Regions from separate parts of the Homo sapiens genome. Here region 1 is linked to region 2. The links come from fine-mapping of genetic effects on gene expression. A gene starts in region 2. The other region holds a variant in brackets. All regions are shown on one strand. Distances are from middle to middle. Region 1 has its middle 28 kb from the start of DCP1A. Region 2 holds the start of DCP1A (decapping mRNA 1A).

What was found. PIP is the estimated chance that this variant, and not a neighbour inherited with it, causes the effect.
Region 1: its variant is fine-mapped to the expression of DCP1A in whole blood (GTEx, PIP above 0.99).

Annotation. Positions count from the first base shown.
Region 1 is chr3:53,372,879-53,378,257 of GRCh38, reverse strand. No RefSeq gene overlaps it. Among named protein-coding and RNA genes, the nearest start is that of DCP1A, 28 kb to the right of the region's middle. RefSeq lists a silencer at 2,975-3,024. The variant C/A (reference allele first, on the strand shown) is at 2,385.
Region 2 is chr3:53,344,751-53,350,129 of GRCh38, reverse strand. It overlaps DCP1A (decapping mRNA 1A), which reads left to right and starts at 2,587. Exons shown (of 10, transcript NM_018403.7): 1 at 2,587-2,747; 2 at 5,188-5,228. The coding sequence starts at 2,613. RefSeq lists enhancers at 2,093-2,862, 2,398-2,988, 2,989-3,579.

The sequences.
Region 1 (5,379 bases), 28 kb before region 2:
AAATTAAATTAAAGTTAAATGGAATGACTACAAATCAAAAATAAAAATAAAGTGATCTCTTGAGCTGCTCAGAATACTCTGTTACGGGATGGTAGCATGGACATCAATGAGGAGTTTATTGCAATTACCCAGACAAGAGCTAAAGGGGCTTAGACAAGGGGGTAGCTGTGATCATGAGAAGGGGTCAGATTCTGGATATATTTTGAAGGGAGGACCAAGAGGATTTGCTGATATATGCAATACAGGGAGTGAGAAAAACAGAGAAGTAAAGCATGACGACAAAATGTTTGGTCTGAGCCACTAGAGGGAAGGCTATGGGATGAGCAAGTTGAAGGACAGGAAGGTGTGGTGACTCGGGAGTCCTGTTTTGGTCGTGTTGATTTTGTATTGCATATTAGACATCCAAGAGTAGATGAATAGATTAGCTCTGGAATCAGAGGAAAGGTCCAAATTTAGGAGTTGATGCCATATATGTGTATGGGGTTTAAGCCCCTGAGACTGGAAGAGGGCCCCTGGAGAGTGAGTATGAAGAAGAGCAGAGATGCCCCAGCCCTGGGGCCTTAAGACAGCAGGAAGGGCCAGGCGCAGGGGCCCTCGCCTGTAATCCCAGCACTTGGGAGGCTGAGGTGGGTGGATCACTTGAGGCCAGGAGTTCAAGACCAGCCTGGCCAACGTGGCAATACCCCGTCTCTACTAAAAATACAAAAAAATTAGCTGGGTGTGGTGGCACACACCTGCAATCCCACTACTTGGGAGGCTGAGGCAGGAGAATCACTTGAACCCAGGAGGTGGAGGTTGCAGTGAGCCGAGATCATGCCAATCACTCCAGCCTGGGTGACAGAGCAACACTCTGTCTCAATAAAAAAACAAAGCTGAAAGAGAGAATGGGAGGAGAGGACCTGGAGAGAGACAGTACAGTACAGAATCCTCTTTAGAGAACCCAATGAATGAAAGAAAGCAAAGAGACAAAGAAGGTAGGGTCAACACAGGGTTTTCTGAAAATGAGGCCTCTGCGGAACCCTGTGTTTGCAGGAGCTAGGCACCCAAGCTCACCAGCAGTGCCTGTCCTACCAAGAATCAGAGGCCTCAGTCACCCCTCCGAGGGTACTACTGTGGGGCTGAACCCAGAAACTTCTCCTTTAACTTCAAGTGCACAACAGTAATAAGTGCTTTTATTTTTAGAGTCACTTACTATGCACCAGGCTCCCTAGACATCATTATTACCCCAACTTACAAAGGCAGAAGCAAAGACTTCTGCGAGAAAGGCAAGAATTAGGGAAGGCCTGCATGTGAGGAGAGAATGATCCAGTGGAAAGGGGAGAAAACTGGGAGAGGGGACAGTTGCTGGGGCAATGCTCTCCAGCGGTGCTGGCATGAAGCAGTTAGCTGCAAATAAATCCAGCAGCATGGTCTCACAGGACAGCATGCCAGGGACACAGATTTCTTAGGGGAGGAAAACTGTCACTGGGTTTGTTCTATTTAAGGGACCCAGAGAATGAATCTGTGATGCGTCCTCATCCTTGGGCAGCATCTTCCTGTAAACACTCTCCTATGATCAGGCCTTAAATCAGCTATGATTATTCTTCATTAATAACAGTCCCACCTAACAACTACACAGTACCCTCTTCCCAAGAGTCTTTCAATTTTTAAAATTATTTTTAGTTTTTCAAGAGGAAATGACAGAGAAAACAAAACATAATCCCGCTGTACAGATATATATTAATATATAAATAATATATAATATTAATATATATTTCAATATATATTATATATTACATAAAATATATATTATACATACATTTTTATAGTTATATTTTTATATAGTATATATTTTTATATACTTCATATATATGATTTTTTTTTAATTTTTTGTGTGTGTTTGTGGTAGGGTCTCACTCTGTCGCCCAGGCTGGAGTGCAGTGACACAGTCTTGGCTCACTGCAACCTCCACCTCCCGGGCTAAGCGATTCTCGTGTCTCAGCCTCCTGAGTAGCTGGAATTACAGGCTCACACCACCACAACTGGCTAATTTTTGTATTTTTTGTAGAGACAGGGTTTCACCATGTTGGCCAGGCTGGTCTCTAACTCCTGGACTCAGGAGATCTGCCCGCCTCAGCCTCCCAAAGTGCTGAGATTACAGGTATGAGCCACTGCACCCGGCTTATATATATATATTTTAAGACAGGATCTTACTGTGTTGCCCAGGCTGGAGTGCAGTGTCACCATCACAGCTGACTGCAGCCTCAAACTCCTGAGCTCCTCCCACCTCAGCCTCCCAAGTCTGGGACTACAGGCAGGAACCACAGCAGTGGCCCCCTGTTAATATTTTTAATAGAAATAATAAAATGAAGAGTAAAGCCTCCCTCCCCTGTCCTAGTCTATTC[C/A]GTAAAGATAACCACAGCTCTTTATTTTTCTAGAAAAAAATTGCATATATCACCTATATGTTTGAGTAAAAATTCATACACAAAACCCATCATGCTATAAATTACTACTCTGCACCTCAGTCTTAATATATCTTGGCAATTTTTATCTACATATTTATTTTAACGGTCATGGTGCACGTTTTAAAAAGTGCTTTGCCAGGCCATGCAGGTGGCTCATGCCTGTAATCCCAGCACTTTGGGAGGCCGAGGCGGGCAGATTACCTGAGGTCAGGAGTTTGAAACCAGCCTGACCAACATGGTGAAACCCCATCTCTATTAAAAATACAAAAATTAGCCAGGTGTGGTGGTGTGCGCCTGTAATCCCAGCTACTCGGGAGGCTGAGGCAAGAGAATCGCTTGAACCTGGGAGGCAGAGGTTGTGATGAGCCAAGATCGCGCCACTGTACTCCAGCCTGGGCGACAGAGCGAAACTCCGTCTCAAAGAAAAAAAGAAAAGCGCTTTGCCATTTGTCATATCTTAGTCTCATCGAAACACATTGAGAAAAGAATACTTTATTTTGCAGATAACAAAATTGACCCAGAGTGACATTAAGTGACCTGTCCAAGGTCTCCCGGGAGTTGGAAGCTGAGGCAATAGTAGACACTGGGTTCCTGTCACTCCCTGTACCACAGCGCCTCCCAGTGGCGTCCAGGTGACATTTTTCACCCACAGCACTACTGGGGCCATCCAACACACCCTCTTCCTCCACATAGTCCACCAGATCTCAGGAAAATTTTCATCCACATTATTAAGACCATCCCATAGTCAAAAGCAATATGTCTCTTTTTTTTTTTTTTTAGATGGAGTCTCACTCTGTCGCCCGGGCTGGAGTGCAGTGGCATGATCCCAGCTCAATGCAACCTCTGCCTCCTGGGTTCAAGCAATTCTCCTGCCTCAGCCTCCCGAGTAGCTGGGACTACGGGCACATGCCACCACTCCCAGTTAATTTTTGTATTTTTAGTAGAGATGGGATTTCACCATGTTGGCCAGGCTGGTCTCAAACTCCTGACCTCAAGTGGTCAGCCTGCACTGGCCTCCCAAAGTGTTAGGATTACAGGCATGAGCCACCACGCCAGGCCCCACTGTGTCTCATTTTTACAGACTTTCTTTATTCATGAAATAATTTTTATAGCCATTGCATTGGGATTTAAAATTCTAAATAGAAAGTTAAGTTGTACATCTTATAATATCTAATATTCTAAGCCTTTCAGAGTGGAAAGAGAAGATATGGATGCTAGGGTAAGTTACTTTTGATCAATTTTTTTTAAGTCCAATGTACAGAGTATGTTCAAATGTCTGTGGTTCTTAACTTTTTTGTGAGACACGGACCCTTTTGTTGAAAATCTGATGAAAGCTACCAATCCTCTCCGGTGACAAAAGCACAGACACCTAAAATCTTGCCTTCAATACCAAGGCATTCATTAGAACTTCTAAGGACCATCCACAGGCCCCAGGTAAAAAAGCATTGCAATAGGGCCGGGCGCGGTGGCTCAAGCCTGTAATCCCAGCACTTTGGGAGGCTGAGGCGGGCGGATCACAAGGTCAGGAGATCGAGACCATCTTGGCCGACATGGTGAAACCCCGTCTCTACTAAAAATACAAAAAAAATTAGCCGGGCGTGGTGGTGGGCGCCTGTAGTCCCAACTACTGGGGAGGCTGAGGCAGGAGAATGGCGTGAACCCGGGAGGCAGAGCTTGCAGTGAGCGTAGATTGCGCCACTGCACTCCAGCCTGGGAGACAGAGCAAGACTCCATCTCAAAAAAAAAAAAGCATTGCAATAATGATTTAGTCCCCCGATTTTGCTATACCAAGTATATCTACATTACCAGCAGTGTCACAACATGCTTTTAATTCATTCTTACTTTTAACATATATGCCAAATCTCAGCTAAGTTGGCTATTTGTGGGTATATCAGTATAAGTTCAATTAGCACAGAAAATCTGAAAACCCTGAAATATTTTCTTTCAGTTTTTTTAGAGAATTAACTTTTCCATTGACAAGGCTGATCAACAAAAAGACATTTAAATTAAGATTTGACTTATATTATACAATGATACTTGACACTCATCTTACACTGAAAACAAAACCAAACCAAAGGGAAGTCCAGACTTGGATACGGTGAAGAGTGGTGGAGGGGATACAGGATTCATCTCATCAACTAATCACTTCTTTCAGAAATATAATTAACCTTAGGAGCAGACAAAATTTACTCTGTGGCTTTGGGGTGGGCAAAAAACACTCCATATAGAAAATCCTTTATTCTACCATCTTTCAAATCTTCCATTCTAATTAGGGTATCCTTTTCTGAGGTGCCTTAAGAATCATCTTCTGGCCAGATACAGTGGCTCACGCCTATAATCCCAGCACTTTGGGAGGTCAACACAGGCAGATCACTTGAGGCCAGGAGTTCAAGACCCACCTGGCCAACATGGCAAAATCCCATCTCGACTAAAAATACAAAAATTAGCCAGGCGTGGTGGTGGGCATCTGTAATCCCAGCTACTTGGGAGGCTGAGGTGGGAGGATCACTTGAACTCAGGAGGTGGAGGTTGCAGTGAGCCGAGATGGCACCACTGCATTCCAGCCTGGGCTTCAGGAGTGAGACTCCGTCTCAAAAAAAAAAGCCTCTTCCTTCCTAAGAAGGCTGATTTCCTCATTGTAAGGGAGTCTGCAAATAGCATTACCGTTAAGTAACAGCAAAGTACTGTATCAATGTTTTTCTTCACATAATTAAAACAGCCTTTAATTTCCCTTTTCCCCAGGTGATGATTCCATTTTCTGGTCCAAAGTCCGCTCTGAACAAGAGTTTAGTCAGCTGCCTAAAACATTAAAAGGCTATTTTCAAACACTTCCAAAAGCTGACTCTTTTTCTGCACTATTTAATGACAAGGCGAAGAAAAGAGGGACAGAAGATAGTAACCGTAACATGTTCTCACCTCTAAGACCTTCTCTTCC
Region 2 (5,379 bases):
GTCACTCATAGTTGGATCAGAATAAATTTCTTCAACTATTTTACAGAGTTTGACTCTTCTCATCAACACAATGACAAAAAACAGTGGTCCTGGGATATAAAATCATAGGCAATACAAATATTTAGTGTTATTTTCTTGAAAATATGGTTTTATCTTACAAAAATTTTCAATTCTGTTGGGGATGTCAATTTTTTTTTCTTTCCAGACGTAGTCTTGCTATGTTGCTCAGGCTGGTCTTGAACTCCTGACCTCAAGTGATCCCCACCTCAGCCTACCAAATAGCTGGGACTACAGTTACATGCCACCATGCCCCCCCCTTTTTTTTTTTGGATGGAATTTCTCCCTCTGTTGCCCAAGCTCTGGAGTGTAGTGGTGCAATCTTGTGTCACTGCAACCTCCGTCTCCTGGGTTCAAGCTATTCTCATGCCTCAGCCTCTTGAGTAGCTGAGATTACAGGCATGTGCCACCACGCCCAGCTAATTTTTGTATTTTTAGTATAGATGGGGTTTCACCATGTTGGCCAGGCTGGTCTCCAACTCCTGACCTCAAGTGGTCCACCTTCCTCGGCCTTCCAGAGTGTTAGGATTACAGGCGTGAGCCCACACATCTAGCTACCATACCCTTTTTTTTTTTTTTTTTTTGAGTCTTGCTCTGTCGCCCAGGCTGGAGTGCAATGGCACCACCTTGGCTCACTGCAACCTCCGCCTCCCGGGTTCAAGTGATTCTCCTGTCTCAGCCTCCCAAGCAGCTGGGACTATAGGCGTGCGCCACCACGCCCGGCTAATTTTTGTATTTTTAGTAGAGACGGGGTTTCACCATATTGTCCAGGCTGGTCTCAAACTCCTGACCTCAGGCGGTCTTCCCACCTTAGCCTCCCAAAGTGCTGGGATTACAGGCATGAGCCACCACGCCCAGCCTCCATGACCTTTTTAACGAAAGAAATGTTGCTTTTTAAGAAGTCTGGCGGGGATAGAACTCCCTATAGTCTCCATGATTTGTTTTACTTGTTAGCTAGTGCCTAACTCTTTCAAACGCTTTAAAATGCTCAACAGACACTTACCAATGAAATGAGTGATCTGCTTAATGCTTTAAATGAAGCAAGACAAATTAAACCCTTCATGGACTCTTCCCAGGGCTGGACAAAAATATTTATGTGGGTCAGACGCAGTGGCTCACGCCTGTAATCCCAGCACTTTGGGAGGCCAAGGAGGGCAGATCACCTGAGGTCAGGAGTTCAAAACCAGCCTGGCCAATGTGGTGAAACCTCGTCACTACTAAAAAAAATACAAAAATTAGCTGGGCGTGGTGGCGGGCGCCCGTAATCCCGGCTACTCTGGAGGCTGACGCAGGAGAATCGCTTGAACCCAGGAGGCAGAAGTTGCAGTGAGCTGAGATCGCGCCACGGCACTCCAGTCTGGGCGACAGAGCGAAACTCCATTTCAAAAAAAAGAAAAAGAAAAAGAAAAAATTAGCCAGGTGTGGTGGCGGGCGCCTGTAATCCCACCTAATTGGGAGGCTGAGGCAGGAGAATCGCTTGAACCCTGGAGGCAGAGGTTGCAGTGAGCTTGAGATTGTGCCACGGCACTCCTGCCTGGGCAAAAGAGCGAGACTCCGTTTCAAAAAGAAAAAAAGAAAAGGGCCGGGCGCGGTGGCTCAAGCCTGTAATCTCAGCACTTTGGGAGGCAGAGGCGGGTGGATCGCCTGAGGTCAGGAGTTCGAGACTAGCCTGGCCAACATGGCGAAACCCCGTCTCTACTATAAACACAAAAATTATCAGGGCATGGTGGCGCGCCCATGTAATCCCAGCTACTGGGGACGCTGAGACAGGAGAATCGCTTGAACCTTGGAGGCGGAGGTTGCAGTGAGTCGAGATCGCGCCACTGCACTTCAGCCTGGGCGACAAGAGTGAAACTCCGTCTCAAAAAAAAAGAAAAAAAATCCACTTGTACCTTCTGCTAATCAGTGTATATATTCAAGGCAACTTGAATCTATGCTCCTGGGGTGCAATCCTCAAGCTTGGCCCAAATAAACTCTCTGCTTGCATTTATTTTGCCCCAGAGTCTTCTTCCTTTTAGGTCGACACATCCATATCTGAGACCTAGGGTAATTTTCTGGGCTTCTCGCCTCTCCCTTTCCCCCATGTTTTTCTGTGCTCTCTAAACGGGCCCGGTAGAGTCCCGCATTTCCACATTCCACAGACATGTTTTCCTTCTGTGGCCCCGGGCCCTGCCAGACAGCGCACCGCGAGGCCGGCACTTCGGCGGTCTCCAACCTTTGCCTGGAAAGAGCTCGGCAGGCGAGCTAGAGGCCAGATCCCAGGACCCAGTCGTTTTAGCTCAGGGAAAGGAAGCGCCGGAGCTCCAGCCTGCAAGCTCCACTACGCAGCCTTGGACACCGCCCACATCGTAGGGCCGCGGACCCTGACAACGCCGGAACCCGGCGCCCGGAGCGTGCGCGCGGCGGACCAGAATGGCTGACGTACCGCCCTGCCGCGAGGCCCGCGTAGAGGCGGAAGTTGAGGGGACTGACGCAGATGGGGGAATTTTGCCTCGATGGCACTTTCCTGTCCGCGACTCCGCCCCCACCAGAGGGGCTAGGCTCTGGGATTCAAGATGGAGGCGCTGAGTCGAGCTGGGCAGGAGATGAGCCTAGCGGCCCTGAAGCAACACGACCCCTATATCACCAGCATCGCAGACCTCACGGGCCAGGTCGCTCTGTACACCTTCTGCCCCAAGGCCAACCAGTGGGTGAGTGCCGCCTGGCCCTGAGGACGGCCACCCGGCCGCTGCCGTCTCTTAAAGGGGCCGCGCGGGTTACTGTGGGGTGGGGGGGCACACTAAGAGGCCAGGGCGGTGGAGACGAGGCCAGGGTCTGGCCAAGAGCCTAGCCAGAGCCTGAGGGGTGTCGGGTCCGCTTGGGATTGGGGGATAGGAGTGAGAGAAGTGGCTCGAGACATCCCAAGGAAAAGCCAGTGGAGGGGAGGATTGGAGCAGGATCAGTCCCTTGGCGTCGGGTCTGGGGACGTGGGCGACCTGCCTTCTTTGCAGATACATTGGGAGTTATAAGACCGGTGGGGTCAAAAGGGTGCCTGAAAGCTTGTGTTTGAGGCTTTGCGGATTATTAGATAAATTATATGTACATTATCTATAAAATAAACACTCCTCCTCTCCCCCTGGCAAACGTAAATGAGAGCCCCTGTCGCAGAGGTCATTTGGGTTTAAAGTTTAAAATCCAATTAGTTTCGATTCTTGGAAGGAGGGGGTGGGTGGGTCCGGCTTTAATCGAACTACACAGAGTTTCGGAAAAGATTCCAAGGCACTTAGGAAAAGGGCTTCCGTGTTCACTGGATCCCCGAAGACCTTTGTACAAACAAGAGAGACCCTGTAAATGTGTTTTGTTCCATCTATGATGCTGGTGATGTCATCTCTGAATGCTCCCCTCGGACTCAGTACTTTCTGGCTTTCGTGCACTGGGGAGGGTCCGAAAAGTCACATTCAGTGTGTTCACTGATTCTTGTTAGCCCCTGCTTGAAGCTTTGTTAGTTGTTTAAAAAGCATAATTTCCCACTTTCTTGTAATTGACCCTTCCTAATTAACTCATTCAGCTACAGGCTTTACACTTAGAAAGTAATACGTAAATGCTTGTTGGATTGAATTCACCAATGACTGGAGTTCACATTTCAATAAGATACGAAATCCTTAAACTGACAGAACTCTGGAAGATGACCGTAGTATGTCGTTTACCCTATAATACAGTTGCATAGATTATATTTATCAGTAATTTATCGAAAATCATTTGGCATTTATGAACAGTTAATTCAGATGAAGAGTTTTTATAATCACGTTGTTTATCTTTGCCTCCTGGAAGAGAAGGAGATATGGGAAGCCACAAGGAATAAAATTGTAGATTGTTTTTTAAATGTAGCTATTTTAGACATTGCCTTAGTTTGAAATTTTATGAATCTTTTTTCTTTTCTTGGCCTATATATAAATTTTGAAATATGGATTGCCGACAAATGGTGAAGACTTGGGGCTAGAGTTTTCCTAGTTTTTCACAAAGGCTTTCAATATTTTAAAATTTTACATTGTGGAGTTCTGTTTTAAATATGAAATACAAGCTATAATAACCTGAATTGAAAAATAAGCTGCTACTGTTTATTTGGATCCTGGCACATAGAGCATGACAAAAATCTTTTCCCTCTTTATTATTTTACAGTGAGTTGTAACTTTGCATGATGTTTTTTGGTGGGCAAATTTTCTTTTACTGTAAGACAGTTGATTACCAGTTTCTTATAGTAATAACCTAACATTTTAAAGGTAAGAAAAAGCCTCTGAATCCTTAGGAAGGAAAATAATGATATTTAAGCTAGGGTAGTACTTCTGGAAGAAATCGAGATGATCAATTTTCTAAATTTTTTAATCCCAACACATTCAATATATGACTAACATTTAAAATGTTAATAATGCGTTGATTACAGTAAAATATTTAGGTCCATTGTAGGCTGTAAATTGCAGACTAATAAGCTTATTTATTTTTTAAAAAACACTGAACTGTGTTTAAAACCTAAATACACTCTTGTCACAGAAAATGAACTATGGTAAAGGCCTCCAATAATTACACTGAGGCAGGGTATACTTTCAGTATTCAAGATTCTTCAAGTTCTAAAAATAACAAGCTGATTTTGTTTGGTAGTAATTCTTAACCACAAAATTTGCTAGTTGTCAAAATGTACGAAAACTCCCTAGTGATGAAACAAAGTATCCTATAAGAAAGTTTCATTCCTTTCCTTTTTTAAAATTAACTTGGATAAACTTAAAAGAGAAGAAATTGCAGTATACAGGACCTTAGCTTTAAAGTTAAGAAATCTGGCTAAAATATTTTAGCTATAAAAAGTGAAGGTTTATTCTATGATTTTCTCCTTTACTAATTAAAAAAGAAAAATACTGCAGATACAGATATGTTGCTGGATTAAATATTGCATATGCTTATGCACTGAAAGGATACATTAGAAATGGTAACCACAATTTGTGGAATGAGAGGGAGACTTTACCTGTTCAAAAGTGGTTAATTTTATAATAGATGAAATGAAACAAGTTGATCTTAAACGTGAAGCATTACTTCTCCATGGGGACTATTTGGGGTCTGATTATGGGGAAAAAAAACTAATTGAGTCATTGTCTTTCATAGGAGAAGACTGATATAGAAGGGACCTTATTCGTATATCGAAGGTAAGTTTTTAAAATATGTATATTTGTTTTTAACAGTCTAGTGGTGAACAATGTGAAACGGTTCAATTCTCTTGTACATTTGTCTTTGGAACCGTCCTGCTAGTACCCTTCAAGTTTTCATCTTTCCCTAGCTGTGAAATCTTAACCAGGT